Linked DNA regions of Homo sapiens. The protein of the gene in region 2 interacts with the protein of the main gene of each other region in a biochemical or structural test. Each region holds a gene or a part of one and is shown on either strand. Other genes may lie near its edges.

What was found. The genes of interacting proteins can lie anywhere in the genome.
Region 1: of the proteins of AURKB (region 2) and CENPA, one has a biochemical effect on the other in vitro, tested with the Homo sapiens proteins (3 studies listed by BioGRID).
Region 3: of the proteins of AURKB (region 2) and RACGAP1, one has a biochemical effect on the other in vitro, tested with the Homo sapiens proteins (2 studies listed by BioGRID and IntAct).

What each region holds. Positions count from the first base shown.
Region 1 is NC_000002.12:26,789,056-26,795,089, reverse strand, and holds the end of CENPA (histone H3-like centromeric protein A), read right to left. Parts: intron 2,960-6,034; coding exon 2,850-2,959; intron 2,335-2,849; coding exon 2,257-2,334; intron 1,946-2,256; coding exon 1,811-1,945; 3' UTR 1,764-1,810; intron 1,279-1,763; 3' UTR 501-1,278; downstream 1-500. UniProt on the Homo sapiens protein: Histone H3-like nucleosomal protein that is specifically found in centromeric nucleosomes. Replaces conventional H3 in the nucleosome core of centromeric chromatin that serves as an assembly site for the inner kinetochore.
Region 2 is NC_000017.11:8,204,074-8,207,576, forward strand, and holds the end of AURKB (aurora kinase B), read right to left. Parts: coding exon 3,498-3,503; intron 3,298-3,497; coding exon of another isoform or gene 3,295-3,297; coding exon 3,103-3,294; intron 2,862-3,102; coding exon of another isoform or gene 2,816-2,861; coding exon 2,677-2,815; coding exon of another isoform or gene 2,667-2,676; intron 2,567-2,666; coding exon 2,418-2,566; intron 1,318-2,417; coding exon 1,143-1,317; intron 972-1,142; coding exon 798-971; 3' UTR 661-797; downstream 1-660. UniProt on the Homo sapiens protein: Serine/threonine-protein kinase component of the chromosomal passenger complex (CPC), a complex that acts as a key regulator of mitosis.
Region 3 is NC_000012.12:50,001,495-50,008,494, forward strand, and holds part of RACGAP1 (rac GTPase-activating protein 1), read right to left. Parts: intron 5,143-7,000; coding exon 4,940-5,142; intron 3,899-4,939; coding exon 3,762-3,898; intron 2,811-3,761; coding exon 2,741-2,810; intron 807-2,740; coding exon 753-806; intron 1-752.

The sequences.
Region 1 (6,034 bases), on a different chromosome or scaffold from region 2:
TGGGAAACTTTTCATTTTGTTCTGTACTAAGAAAAATTCTTCTGCCTTGGGATCCTGTTGATCTGTGACCTTACCCCCAACCCTGTGCTCTCTGAAACATGTGCTGTGTCCACTCAGGGTTAAATGGATTAAGGGCGGTGCAAGATGTGCTTTGTTAAACAGATGCTTGAAGGCAGCATGCTCATTAAGAGTCATCACCACTCCCTAATCTCAAGTACCCAGGGACACAAACACTGCGGAAGGCCGCAGGGTCCTCTGCCTCGGAAAACCAGAGACCTTTGTTCACTTGTTTATCTGCTGACCTTCCCTCCACTATTGTCCTATGACCCTGCCAAATCCCCCTCTGCGAGAAACACCCAAGAATGATCAATAAAAAAAAAGACTCCATCTCAAAAAAAAAAAAAAGAAAAAAAAATTGTGGCTGTTTGCAAACAAATAAAGAACTTATTTTTAACACACAAAAAGTACAGTATAATCTCTATGCTGTAACAGTAAGTCCATTTTCATTAAATATTTTGATTTTTATTATCTCTCTACAAAGAAACTACAAAAATACCCATAAAAGCATCGAAAATGTACTTTAAAATTCTGAACTGTTATGATACATCTTCTATGATTTACAAGAGTAAAATGTTAAATTCTCCAAGTTAGAATTTCTGAATTGATTTTGACAGGAATTTACTAGAAGTAACCAGAACATCAAAGCTTACAGGTTTTCTATTCATCCCCAATTAAGTTTCTGAAAAGCTACACATCCGTTGACAAGCACAGTCCACTCAGTTACATGATGCTGCCACTAATGGTGAGGCTACTCTGAAGGGCAGAGGTCTATATGATGGAAATGCCCAGCCTTCCAGGCAACTGCTCAAAGTGGTCTTATTTTTTCCCTTATGTGTAAAATAAAAGTACAAATGTACATATGGTAAAAAATGTAAATATTACAGAAAGAGCTAAAATAATAAGTACATAGCCTTTTCTCCCATACCACAGCAAATCTGATGTTTTCAAAATCCTCAAATAGTCACATGAGTAACTCACAAACTAAAGTCAACCTTGGAGTCTCTTTATCTGAAAATTATTTTCAGGCCTTTGGAACGGTGTTGATTGTCTCATATATTACCTCTGTTACAGAGGAAAGTCATGCAGTCTTCTCCTTCTCAAAAAAAAGAAAAATATTTAAAGCAACACACACATACTGTTCAGAGACAGCAAAGTCCAGACAGCATCGCAGAATCCATTGGATCTAGTCATGGCTCTGGAGAGTCCCCGGTATCATCCCTGAAATTAAGGAAGCACACTTACTAACAAGCCATTTTCAAAAGTAAGAAAACTTTCTCTTAATCAAAAAAGAGAAAGTTTTTATTAGAAAGTGTTCTCTTTTATTAGAAAGTTTATTAGAAAGTTTTCTCTTAATCAAAATGAGGTCATCTGATTCTTGTAATCTCAACACTTTGGGAGGCCAAGGCAGGAGTTGCAGTGAGCCACGATGGCAACACTGATGACAGAGACCCTGTCTTATAAAAATAAAACAACAACAATAACAACCAAAAGAAATTAGGGTCATCTGGTTATTATTTAATAGAAAGATATCTTTTATCTAACATTGCACAAAAGGGCACAAACCACATTGTCCCAGGCAGTCAAAACTAGATCAACCTTTACTAGAGAACAAAGGGAAGGCGAGGTGACAAGGGACTATGGATGGAGAAAGGAAATTACTTGAGAAATTCCAGCCCCAGTCCTGTGAAAGAGGATGAGCTTACCCCCTGGCTGAGCAGGAAAGACTGACAGAAACACTGGGTGCAGGAGCTCAGCCGAGTCCCTCCTCAAGGCCCCGGATCCTCCGGGCCAGTTGCACATCCTTTGGGAAGAGAGTAACTCGGCCTGCATGTAAGGTGAGGAGATAGGCGTCCTCAAAGAGATGAACTAGAAATGCTTCTGCTGCCTGGAGACAGAAAGAGAAAAAGACGGACACAGATGAAGGGCCACGGGCTGCTTTTTTTTGGAAACCTGCTAAACTTAATCTCTGAGGGCTCAAAGGATTGTAGGAAACTATTCACAGAATGAGACTGAACTTTGCCAGGGAATTCTGCTATCACCACGCAGAATCCAGCCTCCAAACCCTCAGAGGTTACCTCATTGTTCTTTTCCAGAGGTCAGATTCAGCATGTGACACTCCAGTCAGCACTGGAGAATTCTAGGCTGCCTCTTTCTCCCACTCAGCCCTCACCCAATTGTGCCTTGGTGCCTTCTTACCTCTTGTAGGGCCAATAGGGCCTGGGCTTGCCAATTGAAGTCCACACCACGAGTGAATTTAACACATATTTCTCTTGCCTGTGAAGGAGTGGGGAAGGGGAGGAGTAGGAGTAGGGAGTAACAGAAGAGAGATTCAAGGGACAATGATGCTCTCCATGAGTTCCAGTGAATCTTCCTTTCCATTATTTTTTCCTGGCTCTTAATCTTAGGACCCAATTAGGAGCAGGTGTTGACTCCTGGGAGCTTAGGAACTGGCGGATCTCTTACTGGTGATGGGGAAATCACCAGTAATTGGGTGATGAGAGGCAATCTCCCAGGATAGGAAAAGGGATCTAAGGTGGACAAACGAGAGAGTTCCTATTTATACAGTCAAAAACTACAGTTTTAAAAAGGTAGTAGAGGTTAGAAATCAATTCCATAAAGAATTACAAGGTGCTCTTGGAGGGCTCATGTTTTCAGAAAAGAATCCCCTACCAGGTTACAAAAGAGGTCCCTTGGCCAGTTAGTTAAGAGACAGTAGGGTCCCTAATACCTGGGAAAATTTAAAAAAAGGAGGGTGGCATAGGGGTTGGTGGGAAGCTCCCGGAGCTTACCAGGCGGCTGAAGGGCAGCTTCCTTATCAAGAGGTGTGTGCTCTTCTGAAGCTTTCGGATCTCCTTTAGCCAACCTTGTCTCCGCCGACTGTGTTGATGGGAGGAAGCGCCTGAGCAAAAGAAAGGTAAGTTCAGTGGAAAATAGGTGGTGCCTCGCAGCTTGGCTGAGTCAGGTAAGCTGTCAAATTGCTAGACTATATCTATGTGCCTACCCTCCACAGAGCAGGGATTTTTGTCTGTTTTATTAGGTTGCTGCAAAAGTCATTGCAGTTATGGCAAAAACCACAATACTTTTGCACCAACCTGATATATAGTAATTTTGCTGCTATCTTCAGCAATTAGAAAATAGCAGATAGGTGCTAAATAAACATTTGTTAAATGAATGAGTGAATGATCCTCTGCAGTTGATTTTAAATGCTAACTCTTCCATGAAGTCTTTCCCGAATCCTGATCCTTCCAAACAGATGGGTGACCGCCCTCCTCTGGGCTTTGCAGGACTTTGTACAAGTCTTAGATCTTTCCCACCTAGATTGGAAGCTCAGTTATTTTGGTTTTAGATTTTTTGTTGGTTTGTTTTTTACAGCTGGAAAGAATCTGAGAGACTAGTACAATTCCCTTGTCTTGATCATCCTGAGGCCCAGCGAGGTGAAGATGGTTGGCCAGCCCTCATTAGTGGCCAAGCTGAGACCTGTGTAAGGTGTGGCCTAACTCAGTGTCAGTGTCAGGCACCTGGGCTGTGGAGACAGAGCCTTTGGCTCAAATCCTGGTTCCAACAAGAACAAAAAAGAAAATAATTTTAAAAACATTCCCAAAAGTAGGAATCAAAAAAGCCAAATTCTCTAATTGGAAATTAAAAACTCATGAATCAAAAACCAGTTTCTTCTAACTAACCTGTGTTGAAGAGGAAACTTAATTGAAATTAGACTATTTGGAAATGAATAACAATAAAAAGCCCATATCCCAAAACTTATGAGATACAGCCAAAATAGTACTAGAGGAAAATGCATAGCCTTAAAGTGTTCCTATTAGAAAACAAGAACACTAAAAGGTATCTGAGCCAAGCAGTCAAATTAAGTATTACAGAGTTATTAAAGTAAACCAAAACAAGATAGAACAAAAGAAATATTAGAAAATAAGTTAGTGAAAATAAAGTTAAAGAAAAAACAGCACAGTTGCTCCATAATTACAACCAAGGATCAAGATGAGTGAACATCTGATAAGTTGAACAAACAAAATACAAAAATAACATGTTGACGGATAAAATTGTTTCAGAAATGTTATTCAGGATCCAGCCAAGCAAAGAGACTCTACACCAAGTTCGATAGAAGGCATTTAATACAATAAACTAATCACGAAGTGTTAGAAGAGCTGCAAGAGCAAGTAGGGTAGGTGAGACAATCCAGAGATGGCCTGTGCCAGGCAGCCAGCAGAGGAGACCATCCCTGGGTGAGGCTAGAGAACACAGGCCAATGAAACAGGGCAGTGTCCAGAAGACTGATAACATTTAAAACTGGGAAGACCCATGCCCAGGAGAAAAACTACTGACACCTCCCTCCCTCCCCACCACCAGTTGGCAATCCAGTCACTGGAGGCAGTCTTTAATAAACAGACATAGGGCTGGGTGCGGTGGCTCACGCCTGTAATCCCAGCACTTTGGGAGGCCAAGGTGGGTCAATCACCTGAGGTCAGGAGTTCGAGACCAGCCTGATGAACATGGAGAAACCCATCTCTACTAAAAATACAAAAATTAGCCGGGCATGGTGGCAGGCACCTGTAATCCCAGCTACTTGGGAGGCTGAGGCAGGAGAATTGCTTGAACCCAGGAGATGGAGGTTGCAGTGAGCCAAGCTCGCACCACTGTACTCTAGCCTGGGCAACAAGAATGAGACTGTGTCTCAAACAAAAATATATAAATAAATAAAATAAAATAAAAAAATAAACAAGACATAGCATTCACAGAAAATTTGAAGATGAACACAACTAAAGATCACCCAACAATTTAAGAAGGCCAATACCATGAAAGAAAGGAACCAAACTCAACAAACAAAATAGCCAATACCAGAGGAAATTGAGTTAATAGAGAAAAGAAATAGAAACTTTGAGAGAAAAATGGTTAATGAACTCAGAGAGGTAACAGAGATATGAAATCCATGACCCAAGAACAAGTGGTTATGAAAAGTAACCAATTAGAGAGATCATGGAAAAGAACTGGGATCAAAAATTTAGTAGCTGGGTCTTGAAATGCCAACATGAGGAGATGGAATTTAATCCTACTGTAATAAGAAGCCAGGGAAGAGTTTTATGCAGGATAGAGATGTGGAAGGTCATTCCAGCTGCTGTGTAAGGAAAGAAGTAGAAAGGGACAGAGTGGAAGTGGAGTGGCAGCTGATTAGGAGGCTCTCACAGTTGCTCGAGAGCTGCTGGTAGCTTGGACTAGGCTAGTGGGAGCAGAGATGGTGAAAATGGAGTGATTAAGGATGCAGTTTGGAAGTAGAATTATCTGGACCTGCATTTGTATTGGAGACGGGGGTCTCCCAGGCTTGTGGTTTGAACAACTGGGTGGGTAGTTGTGCCATTTACTGAAATGGGGAAGCTGAGGATGAAGGGGCTGGAGGGGAGTAACCAGAAGTTCAGTTTTGGGTGTGTTAAGTTTAACATAACCAAGAGCCTTCAGGTAGAAAGGCAGTTAGATATAGGTATCTGGGGTCAGAGGAGAGATCCAGGTATACAGATATTTGAGAGCTGTCAATGTATGAGTGGGATTTAGAGCCACGGAGGAGATGAGACCACCTAGGGAGGGGGTAGAAAGGAAAAGGATGTCAAGGAAGTCCAACATCAAGGAGCCGAGGGAGGCAGCACAGGCAGTAGAGAACACCAAGCAGAACTGCCAGAGTGCACAGTGGCATGGAAGCCAAGGGAACAGAACGCTTCAAGGAGAAAGAGGCCCACTGCGTCAAATGCTTCTGAGACACAGTAAGAACACAGACCCACCTACTGGATTTGGCACTACAAAAGGTGCTAGTGACCCTGACAGGAGTAGTTCAAGCAGATTAGAAGTGGGGGTAGTGGTTGTGGGGAGTCAGATTGGAGTGGGTTGTAGGGTCACTAGGAAGGGAGGAATCAGATGCAATGTATGTGGACCTAACAAGTCTGGCTATTTTAAAAGGACAGCTATGAAGGGAAGT
Region 2 (3,503 bases):
AGTGCAGGGATTACAGGCATGAGTCACTGCGCCCAGACTTAACTGTTTTTTTGTTTTTGTTTTTTTTTTTAAAGACTCTGAGTAAACTATGAGTAGAATAGGCCCTGTTTAACCTGATAAAGGGTATCTATCAAAAACCTACAGCAAGCATCATGCATAACAGTGTAACCTCATGTCAGGAACAAGACAGAATCACTGCTGCTTCTATTGGCTCCTGTACTAGATCCTGACCAGAGCAGTGAAATAATCAAAGACAGCTTCTAGGGTACAGAACTGTTTAGTTGCTCCTACGTTGGCAAAGGGGCAGAGAATGAAACAGAAAAGGAAAAACTAGAAGTTGGACAACCAAGAGAGAGGTGAAAGAAGGTGGCCAGAGATGGCTGGTGTTCCAATGTAGCAATGGGGAGCCAGGGCCCCCAGTGCCCCTGGGCTGTGGGAGTCTGAGCAACGGAAAGAATAGACAGTGAGGGTAGAGGTGGAAGTGGGGGTAGGGGTTGGGGTGGCTGGGAGCTGACCAGGTGGGTGTCAGAGCTGAGAGGGTAGGGTGTTACCAGGGATAGCAAAGTAATGCTCATCCCGGCTCCTCAGGGTGAGCCAGCTCTCCTTCTAGGGAACAGCTTCCTCCACAGCAAAGCCTCCACCTAGAAACATCTACACTCATGAGTACAAAAAGCTTCAGCCTTTATTAAACAAAGGAGGAGGTAGAAAACAGATAAGGGAACAGTTAGGGATCCCTTCTTTCCCCTATACATACACAGACATACAAACACACGCACCCGAGTGAATGACAGGGACCATCAGGCGACAGATTGAAGGGCAGAGGGAGGCAGCACCCTCCGAGAGTTGGCCCGGACCCAAGGGTGGGCTGAGACCTGGGCCAGGGGCAGCCGTTCCGAGGGGTTATGCCTGAGCAGTTTGGAGATGAGGTCCTGGGCTCCCATGGGCACGGAAGCGGGGAACTTTAGGTCCACCTGCAGGTGTGAAGAGATGGAAGGGCTGCATTAGTTTCACCCTGGCTACATCTTCCTTGACTACCCATTCTGTTTGGAGTTACTTAGGGCCATGCAAATACACTCTGCCCACCCCCAGCCCCCCAGCTCCTGGCTTCAGCAGCTGGCACGAAGCCCAGGCCGCCCTCCCACCTTGACGATGCGGCGATAGGTCTCGTTGTGTGATGCACTCTCAAAGGGTGGGTTCCCCACCAGCAGCTCATAGCAAAGCACTCCAATGCACCACAGATCCACCTTCTCATTGTGCATGCGCCCCTCAATCATCTCTGGGGGCAGGTAGTCCAGGGTGCCACACATTGTCTTCCTCCTGGGAGGGATAAGGGGCGTGGGCAGGGGTCCTAGTGACATAGGAACTCTCCTTTCCCTGCTGCCTGACGGCTGGGAGCCAAAAGACCACGGGATGTACCAGGGGAGAGGTCCAGCCAGGCAAGGCCACTGGAGTGGGGGTGGGGTTGGGGTGATGATATATCCCAAAGCCCCAGAGGTGAGCCTGCACACAGCCCAGCAACTCCACACTGAAGGATATATCTTAATAAGATACCCTGATATGAGGGCAGTGTTCATTTGGAGTTCACTGGGGACATCTCTAATGCCCATCAGGCATGTTCTGGTTAAATAAATCAGCTACTATGTGATACTATGAAACCATTAAAAAGTGATGTGGGAGGAAAAAAGGCCACTGCTCCGGGCTTTTTTTGAGAGAGTCCAGGCTGGAGTGCAGTGGGGCGATCTTGGCTCACTGCAACCTCTGCCTCCCGGGTTCAAGTGATTCTCATGTCTCAGCCTCCCGAACAGCTGGGATTACAAGTGTGCACCACCATGTCTGCTTAATAAATTTTGTGTTTTTAGTAAAGATGGGGTTTCATCATGTTGGCCAGGCTGGTCCGCTGGTCTTGAACTCCTGGCCTCAAGTGATCCACCCGCCTTGGCCTCCCAAAGTGCTGGGACTGGTAGGCGTGAGCCACCGCGCCTGGCCAAAGTTTTACCATTGGCCCCTACAGGGATCAAACCTGCGACCTTGGGGTTATTAGCACCACACTCTAACCATTTTTTTTTTTTTTTTTTGAGACAGAGTCTCGATCTGTCACACAGGCTGGAGTGCAATGGCGTAATCTCGGCTCACTGCAACCTCCGCCTCCCAGGTTCAAACAATTCTCCTGCCTCAGCCTCCCCAGTAGCTGGGATTACTGGCGTCCGCCACCATGGCCGGCTAATTTTTGTATATTTAGTAGAGACAAGGTTTCATCATGTTGGCAAATCTAGTCTCGAACTCCTGACCTCAGGTGATCCGCCCTCCTCGGCCTCCCAAAGTGCTGGGATTACAGGTGTGAGCCACGGTGCACGGCCCCTGGAGAGGTTTTAATGGCCCAGCCTCACACCCAGGTCTGGCCTCCCAGGCCACCATACCTCAGGGAGGGCGCATGCACAGACCAGCCGAAGTCAGCAATCTTCAGCTCTCCCTTGAGCCCTAAGAGCAGATTTTCTGGCTTTATGTCTCTGTGAATCACCTTCTTCCCATGGCAGTACATTAGAGCATCTGCCAACTCCTCCATGATCTGGGAGGGGCAACGACAGGCAATCAGACAAGGATGGACCTCCAGCTACAAGCAGCACACCCTCAGCCTCGAGCCCCCTACTGGCGCCCCAGGTGCCCACCCGCCCGGACCGTGGCTGTTCGCTGCTCGTCAAATGTGCAGCTCTTCTGCAGCTCCTTGTAGAGCTCCCCGCGGGGGGCATACTCTAGAATCAAGTAGATCCTCCTCCGGTCATAAAAATAGTTGTAGAGACGCAGGATGTTGGGATGGCTGGGGGAAGAGACAGAGGAGGCCTCAGGCCAAAGGCATAAAAGAGCTGGAAAAGATGATAGGAGCAAACTGGGGTCAGACGTGGCCCAGGCCGGGGACACCAGGGCTGGGAGTGGTAAGGGGAAACTGGAGGCAGATTTCTGGATTCAAGGCTTGCCAGGACTAAGAGCTAAATGGGGCTCACTAGCCATAGCTACAGAGAAAGCAATCTGGATGAAGTGGGGCTGAATGAGGAGCTGGGGGTGAGGGAGCAGAGGGGCTTCGGCTCAGGGGGCATCAACCCATACTGCAGGTGGGCCTGGATTTCGATCTCTCTGCGCAGCTGATGCTCCACGCCCTCCTTCTCTATCTGGGACTTGAAGAGGACCTTGAGCGCCACGATGAAATGGCTTTTCTTCTCCCGAGCCAAGTACACGTTTCCAAACTTGCCTTTGCCCAGAGGACGCCCAATCTCAAAGTCATCAATTGTGAAGTGCCGCCTGCTTAGAAAGTGGAGGAAGGCAACTCAGAACCGGTTTTGGTTATTAAGAGGTTTGCTTTCTCTCTGCTTCCTCATCCCATCCTGTCCTCCGCCCCACTTGTCTTCATCCCTACTCCTCCCGTGCTTAGGTTTTATCTCCCCGACTTCCTGCCTGTTCATTGTCCCCTCACCCCCGTCCACCCCCAGGCTTGGGGCACTTACGTTAAG
Region 3 (7,000 bases), on a different chromosome or scaffold from region 2:
AAATTTAGATGACACCACCAGAAAAAGTACAGCTGTAATCCTAACTAAGGACATGAAGTCTTGGAAACACATTAAGTACCCTAAACAAGCATACACAGATAGATCTCTATATATCCCATTATATGAAGCTTATATTAGAGCACAAAAGTTCTGTGTAAAAATTCATATGACAATTCAAAACAAACTTAAGTTTATCCTTTTCCACTGTATGAATGAATTGAAATGCAGCCTAAACAGTGAAATGGACAGGATTCTGTCCTAAGTTACTACTTCAAAGAGTACCAGTACTGGTTGGGAGCAGTGGCTCACGCCTGTAATCCCAGCACTTTGGGAGGCCGAGGCAGGTGGATCACCTGAGGTCAGGAGTTCAAGACCAGCCTGGCCAACATGGTGAAACCCCGTTTCTACTAAAAATACAAAAATTAGCCAGGCATGGTGGCAGGCACCTGTATCCCAGCTGCTTGGGAGGCCGACGCAGGAGAATTGCTTGAACCCGGGAGGCGGACGTTGCGTTCAGCCGAGATCGCGCCATTGCACTCCAGCCTGGGAAATGAGCAAAACTCCGTCTCAAAAAAAAGAAAAAAAAAAAAAAAAAAGAATATCAATACTGTCCCCACAGCATGAATTCATCTGTAGTATGTGCTTAACAATGGCTAGAGCAACATGACAGGAATGCAGTATCATGGCAAAATTTCCAAAAATAACTCCATTATTACTTTGTTTTAAAAAAAGACTAAACAAATCATACATACCCTCTTTTCTCTCTTCTTCAGTTTGAAAGTCTTCACCAAAGAAGAGTCCCAATCCTGTTGACAATTACACTGTATTAATTTCTTTTTTTGGTTAGGCCATCCCTAAACCCTGTGCAAATAAATTTACAGAGAACTTTAAAGGCTTCTTCAGTCAGGCTACCTAACGTACAATTCGGGGAGGGTTAGAGAAGGGAAGGTCTCAAGTGTTGTAGCTATAGAGCTATAGTAAGTTAATGTGCTTTCTTTGAAAAATTGAAGCTATTATAATAAAATCAGGAATCAATACCACAGAGGCAAGAAGAGGTTAAAGAATCAAATTCTGCCATATTTCCAGTGGCTGATCCTTTATTTCTGATTATTTTTGTAATTAGTTTTAGAACTTACAGAATGTTAGGCACTATACTGATTGTATTAGATGTGATTCTTGCCCCCAAGGGATTGCCACTGTCTAATCAAATGCTCTGCATAATATTGCCACTTCACAAGTTCCACAGTTGCCAGGCGATGGCTCATGCCTGTAATCCCAGCACTTTGAGAGGCCAAGGTGGGCGGATCATGAGGTCAGGATATCGAGACCATCCTGGCTAACACGGTGAAACCCCGTCTCTACTAAAAAAATACAAAAAAATTAGCCAGGCGTGGTGGCGGGCGCCTGCAGTCCCAGCTACTCTGGAGGCTGAGGCAGGAGAATGGCATAAACCCGGGAGGCGGAGCTTGCAGTGAGCTGAGATTGCGCCACTGCATTCTAGCCTGGGTGACAGAGTGAGACTCTGTCTCAAAAAAAAAAAAAAAAAAAAAGTTCTACAGTTTAGGAACTTAGGCCCTAAAACGTGTCCACCACTGAAGAACTATTTGTCTTTTATTGTGGTCTCATTTCAATTCACCTATTTTAACTATTTGCATTCATTTTAGTAGTTACCTGTGATTTCCTTACTCCTGATCATCCCTGAAAACAGTATCTAGAAACAGTGGTATACAGCAAATAATAGCTTAGCTAAATAAATTTAACTTCCCCAAGTCATGGTCCAGTAATTTAGTTACTGGTTGTTTGATTCAGCTTCAGTTACAAGAAATATCGTATCATAGGTCTAGCTCAAAAATCAACTGATAATATGATCTAGTTTTATTATATATTCCAGACCTCCACTATATCATTCCCTATTTGAGAAAGGTGATGCCTAATATTTTTATCTATAAAATGGCCGTATTTTCCCTGGTCAAACACTGAATCTGAACAGAAAACTCCTAGCCATGTAACAAATAGTTGTCACCTGTTTTGCTATACCAGAAAACCAGTCACCAAAAACTTCCTGATTTGTTTTGTTTGCTAGTTTTCAGCTAGTAACAGAAAAGATGCACAAATCAATGAACTATATCAAAGACTGTATCAGGAGATGACCTTTTATGCAGAAGCATCACTGTAAGTTAAAAGAAGTGTGCCGCCCCATAAAAGCAGGGCAACAAATAGTTTAACATGTTAACCATTGTTGATGAAAGCATTATATAGTGCCTAGAAACTCTAATCACACTTTTCTGGCTGAAATCCCAGGACCTTGGTTTCCTTCTAATTGTGAAGTATGACTATGCTTTCCCCAAGAACCAAACTAATTCAGAAATAAGGCACAAGTCTATTTAAGAGCAGCAAATAAACCCTGACGACATACAGTCTTGCTAATATTTTTATTATTAGCTGGGGCTTTAATAAGTCAAAATATAATCAGTTAGTACATGTGGCACACAGAGATCTATTAAATGAACTCAACTTATGCCAAATTCTGAATTATATATTCTCACTTCAGAAACTAATATATAAGCCAGCCTCTTATAGCTCATGTGGATTTATATTTTAAATTGCTAGCTCAGAATCTATAACACATCAACTAATAAAATAGTAATATAGGATGTTCAGAAGAGAAGACAGGAGAGATATTCCTGGGGAAGCAGAGGTAAGAAAAGTAGGTAATTCTCAGAGATCAAATGTTTATTACCAGTGATTCATCAGTCTTGTCAAAGCTGATATCTGATAAAATGGAACCAGATTCATCAATGGTTGATAGTCTAGATCAGTGAAACAATACAACGTTAGACATGGTAGACTGTGGAATGTAAAATTCACCAACATTCAGAACAAGTCCTACTGGTCAGGTAACATCAGTTAATTTCATAGCAAAATCTTCACTATAGAGACAATTACAATCTCAAACCCTGTGGTAGGCTACTTTGTATGGTTTCCACGGAGGAGTGTGTGTGCATGAGTACAGGTGCAACACAGTTGCTTTTTCAGCAAAGACCTTATAAGGGCAGTTGAAAGTTAGTCAGGGTTATGGGTGCTATTCTCTACCGAGTTTGTATTACAGGCTACTCCAAATTCACAAAATCAAGGGAATGAAGTTTAATTTGATCCCAACTGTGCTGGTTTCTACAAACAAGAGTATTACCCAACACTGACTTTTTAAGAAATTAAGCCTGTACATCTTCTTAGTTATAAAGATTCCCCATAAAACAACCAGGCAACAAAATAAATAGCTGACCTTTCCCTACATATTGTACTGGGGATGTTAAATTCAAAGCCTGGTTGAGACTATTTTAAACAGTGGTGCAGTGGAACCAAAATTATTGTCTGGTCTTGGCTCACAGAGGCCTTTCTAAACCAGAAGAGCTGTAAGAGCTCTCTGGAGAGTAAACACTGAAAGTATTGCTGAACTGCCACTTTCACCTTTGGGTTTCTTAGCAATGCACAGGATTAGTTATTGATGTGCAATTTAGCACCAACATCAAAATTGTATCCATGGTGAAACAACATCCTTAGGAAAGATTTAAAAATAAAATAAAATAAAATATACAGGGACATCCCTGTGCCTTTATTCCCCACCTACTCTCCCCACAAAATCTTTTTCTGCTTTTTTCAGCACACATTCTAGAAGAAGTATATTTAAGAATTCAGATAACAAGAATATCTGACAGCCTGTGTTGCTTGTGATAGGATAACAACAGATGCAGTTCCTCCACCTTTTGTTCCCAGCATTGCTGCTGGATGGTTGGCCTCTGTTGAGAAAAGCCAGAGCTGATTTTTGCTCCTCGCTTAGTTGAATGCTGCCAGATGTGTCACACATGAGCATCTCTCGAATCAGCTGAATCTGTCGTTCCTACAGACCAAAGCAAAGTAAAACATCATAACTAGCCAGGGGAGAAAGCTTCACCTCAAGTTTATGGGACAGGCAGACCAGAAGACATTAAAATGCAGCATTATGCAAATGGACCTTCAGGAAGGCTGCTACACCAATAGCATATTAATTCACATCAAACCCAGATTGTGTCTCTGATTTCTGACTGGTAAAATGAACTACATCTAGAACAGCGAAGTTTCTGCTACAAGACTTTTGGATTAACCTGCTAATCCAAGAGGAGAATAATGCAAAATGAGAGTCCCAAAATAGATTTCACATAGCAAAAACACTTTAGTGTCATTTTATCAGGACAAATATTGGCTTCTACGGATCAAAGCAGCCACCCACCTCTCAAAGTAGTGGAGCAAAATGCATTAAAATGGATACAAAGCTATAATGCACTGGAACCAGACAATTTGAGTTTACTGAGGCATCTAACACTGTATACCAAGATGGATTAGTCCCTCCCAGTAAAGGCTTTCCTTTGCATTATGACCCATCCTGGCACATCAAAATGATAGTGTTCTGTGTCAGTCACATTGCTCAACTGGTTGAATACATCTAGCCTTTTACCCTGAATTAGAGAGGGGTGATGAAAAGAAGAGTCACAGTTGTCTTGCCTGTATGTATGACAAAGTACCAGCTACTCATGTAAGGATGGATATTCCGGGTAGCACTTAAAATAAACAATGAAGGATGGCCAATAACTTGTGACAGATCAAGTACGTTAGGATCTCCCTCCCTCCCTTTTCCTCTAATTCTTTAAGTTCTCATTTGAAATCTGTCTGTTAAGTAAGTTTCAAGTCTAAGTGACAAAAACATTTAAATTTCAAATTATGAAGAACAAGATTCCTAGTCTGCAATTTCAGCTCTAATCATGGGCAAGCTGTTAAAGAACAGGTCACTTTCAGTTCTTTAATGTGGAAGAAGAAACTAGGTATATTTGGCAAGTGGAAACTGTCAGACAATGCCTTCCCCCTCCTGCATCATCACTGTTCTAGCACGGAAAACAATACACACCAGCTTTTCGCAGTCAGCCTCAGCTCTCTGTCTCCGTTTGATCTCTACATCCACCTGATTACGTGCATGCTTCAGCTTAACATCCAGAGCACTTCGCTCAGTCTCTGCTTTCATCAAAAGATCCTTGTATTTCCCCAGCTCATGGTCAGTCCTCTGCCACTTTTTACGGAAATCCTCAAAGTCCTTCGCCAACTGGATAAATTCTGAGGAAAGGGGGAATCTTTAATAATTCAAGCACCAAACAGAGTATAACTGCTCTAATAAATGAGTCCTACGGTTAGCTTTATTTGAAATTCATAATTAAGGAACCAGCTGAACTATGGGCAAATCCAGCTGAAAATAACTAGGAGCAGATCCTGGATATGTTTGTCACTCTGATGAGAACTTTGTGGGTAGCAATTCCTATTCAATAGGCCACTTACTTTTGGCTTAGCCAGTGGCATCTGCTATGGAATATGTAACTCATTAGTCACCTGGCTCCAGATGTAACACTAACACTGAAAGCTCCTGAACAGAAGGCAATCAAAGGGGGATACCTTTGGGGCAGCTGTCATGCACCAGGACAGTTACAGCTATAAAACAAAAACAGTTTCCTTTACAGTCACGCATTGCTGCACCAGAGAGATGTTAAACAGCAAATTCAAATGTAACTGCTGTAATATGCTCCAGTAGATGTAGATTAATATTACAGATGTCTAGACCTACAATTCCATTTGGCTATATAATTATACAAATATTGATTTGAAAGTAAAAAGCCAATTTGCTTTTGCTGTTTAACACTGCCCTGAAGGGTATGTAAACATTCCAGTTGAAAAAAAAAAAAACAGGAAGAGAAGATCAAACTAGCTTTTGGAACATCCCTGATAGCAGAATGTGAAGTCTCTTCAAATGTCTGCAAAGAGAACATCACTTCCAAGGCAGCATCTCAAAGGAAGAAGATAACCCTGTTGGCATTCATTCTTATCTCCTGCTATTGGCAAAGCTGTTCTGCAATGTATTTGCAAAAGTGCCTTACAATTTTCTAGTTAACCTCCGTCTATCTCTAAGGATCACTCTCCACCAACATCAAGGAAGAAGGTCTCAAGGTGTACATCTGCTGCTGGTCAAACTAACCCAGTTAAAACTGAAACTAGGCCAAATTCACACACAGCTAGCAGATTCTTAGGTAGTAAGGGCACTTTTCCCCTATGAATTTAACCTAAAAGCATAGAAACAATACATAGTCCTTTTTAAACAATTTTAATCATTTGACCAAATATCAAACTTACAAATCAGGATACCAATTTGTTCCAGAAAAACCAAGTAATAAGGAAACTTTAGTTTTTACAAACCACAAATTTCAGCAAAATAGGTTATTATGACCTAGTTATCTTAAACAATGCGGATATCAACAATTAAAAAAATATTACAATTCAAATAGTTTTAAGAAATAATATGCTGGGTTAGTCTGGAACATACTACTTTTTTGTGGGTTTTTTTTTTTAGCTTAAAGAAAAAAACATATATGTTTGCAAACTAAATACCGTATGCATACACACTCAAAATATTTACCGAACTGAAAAACAATTTTGAGAATAAAAAGATTTTCATCTGACCTAATTTTGCTGGTTTGTTTGTTCTTTAGGATACTCCTTTTATTAAATTACTGCTTCAGCTTAGTTTAAGTCAGACCCAAAGCAGAACATTTACATACCTGATTAATATATTACTTTTTGTGTGTGCAGGTGAGAAATGTGAAAAAAAAAAAAAAAAAAAAAAAAAGATATTACTTTTTTTTTTTTTGAGACAGAGTTTCACTCTTGTTGCCCAGGCAGAAGTGCAATGGCGCAATCTTGGCTCACTGCAATCTCCGCCTCCCAGGTTCAAGCAATTCTCCTGCCTCAGCCTCCTGAGTAGCTGGGATTACAGGTGTGTGTCACCATGCCCAGTTAATTTTTGTATTTGTAGTAGAGACGGGGTTTCACCATGTTGGCCAGGCTGGTCTCAAACTCCTAACCTCAGGTGATTCACCTGCCTTGGCCTCCAAAAGTGCTAGGATTACAGGTGTTAGCCACTGTGCCC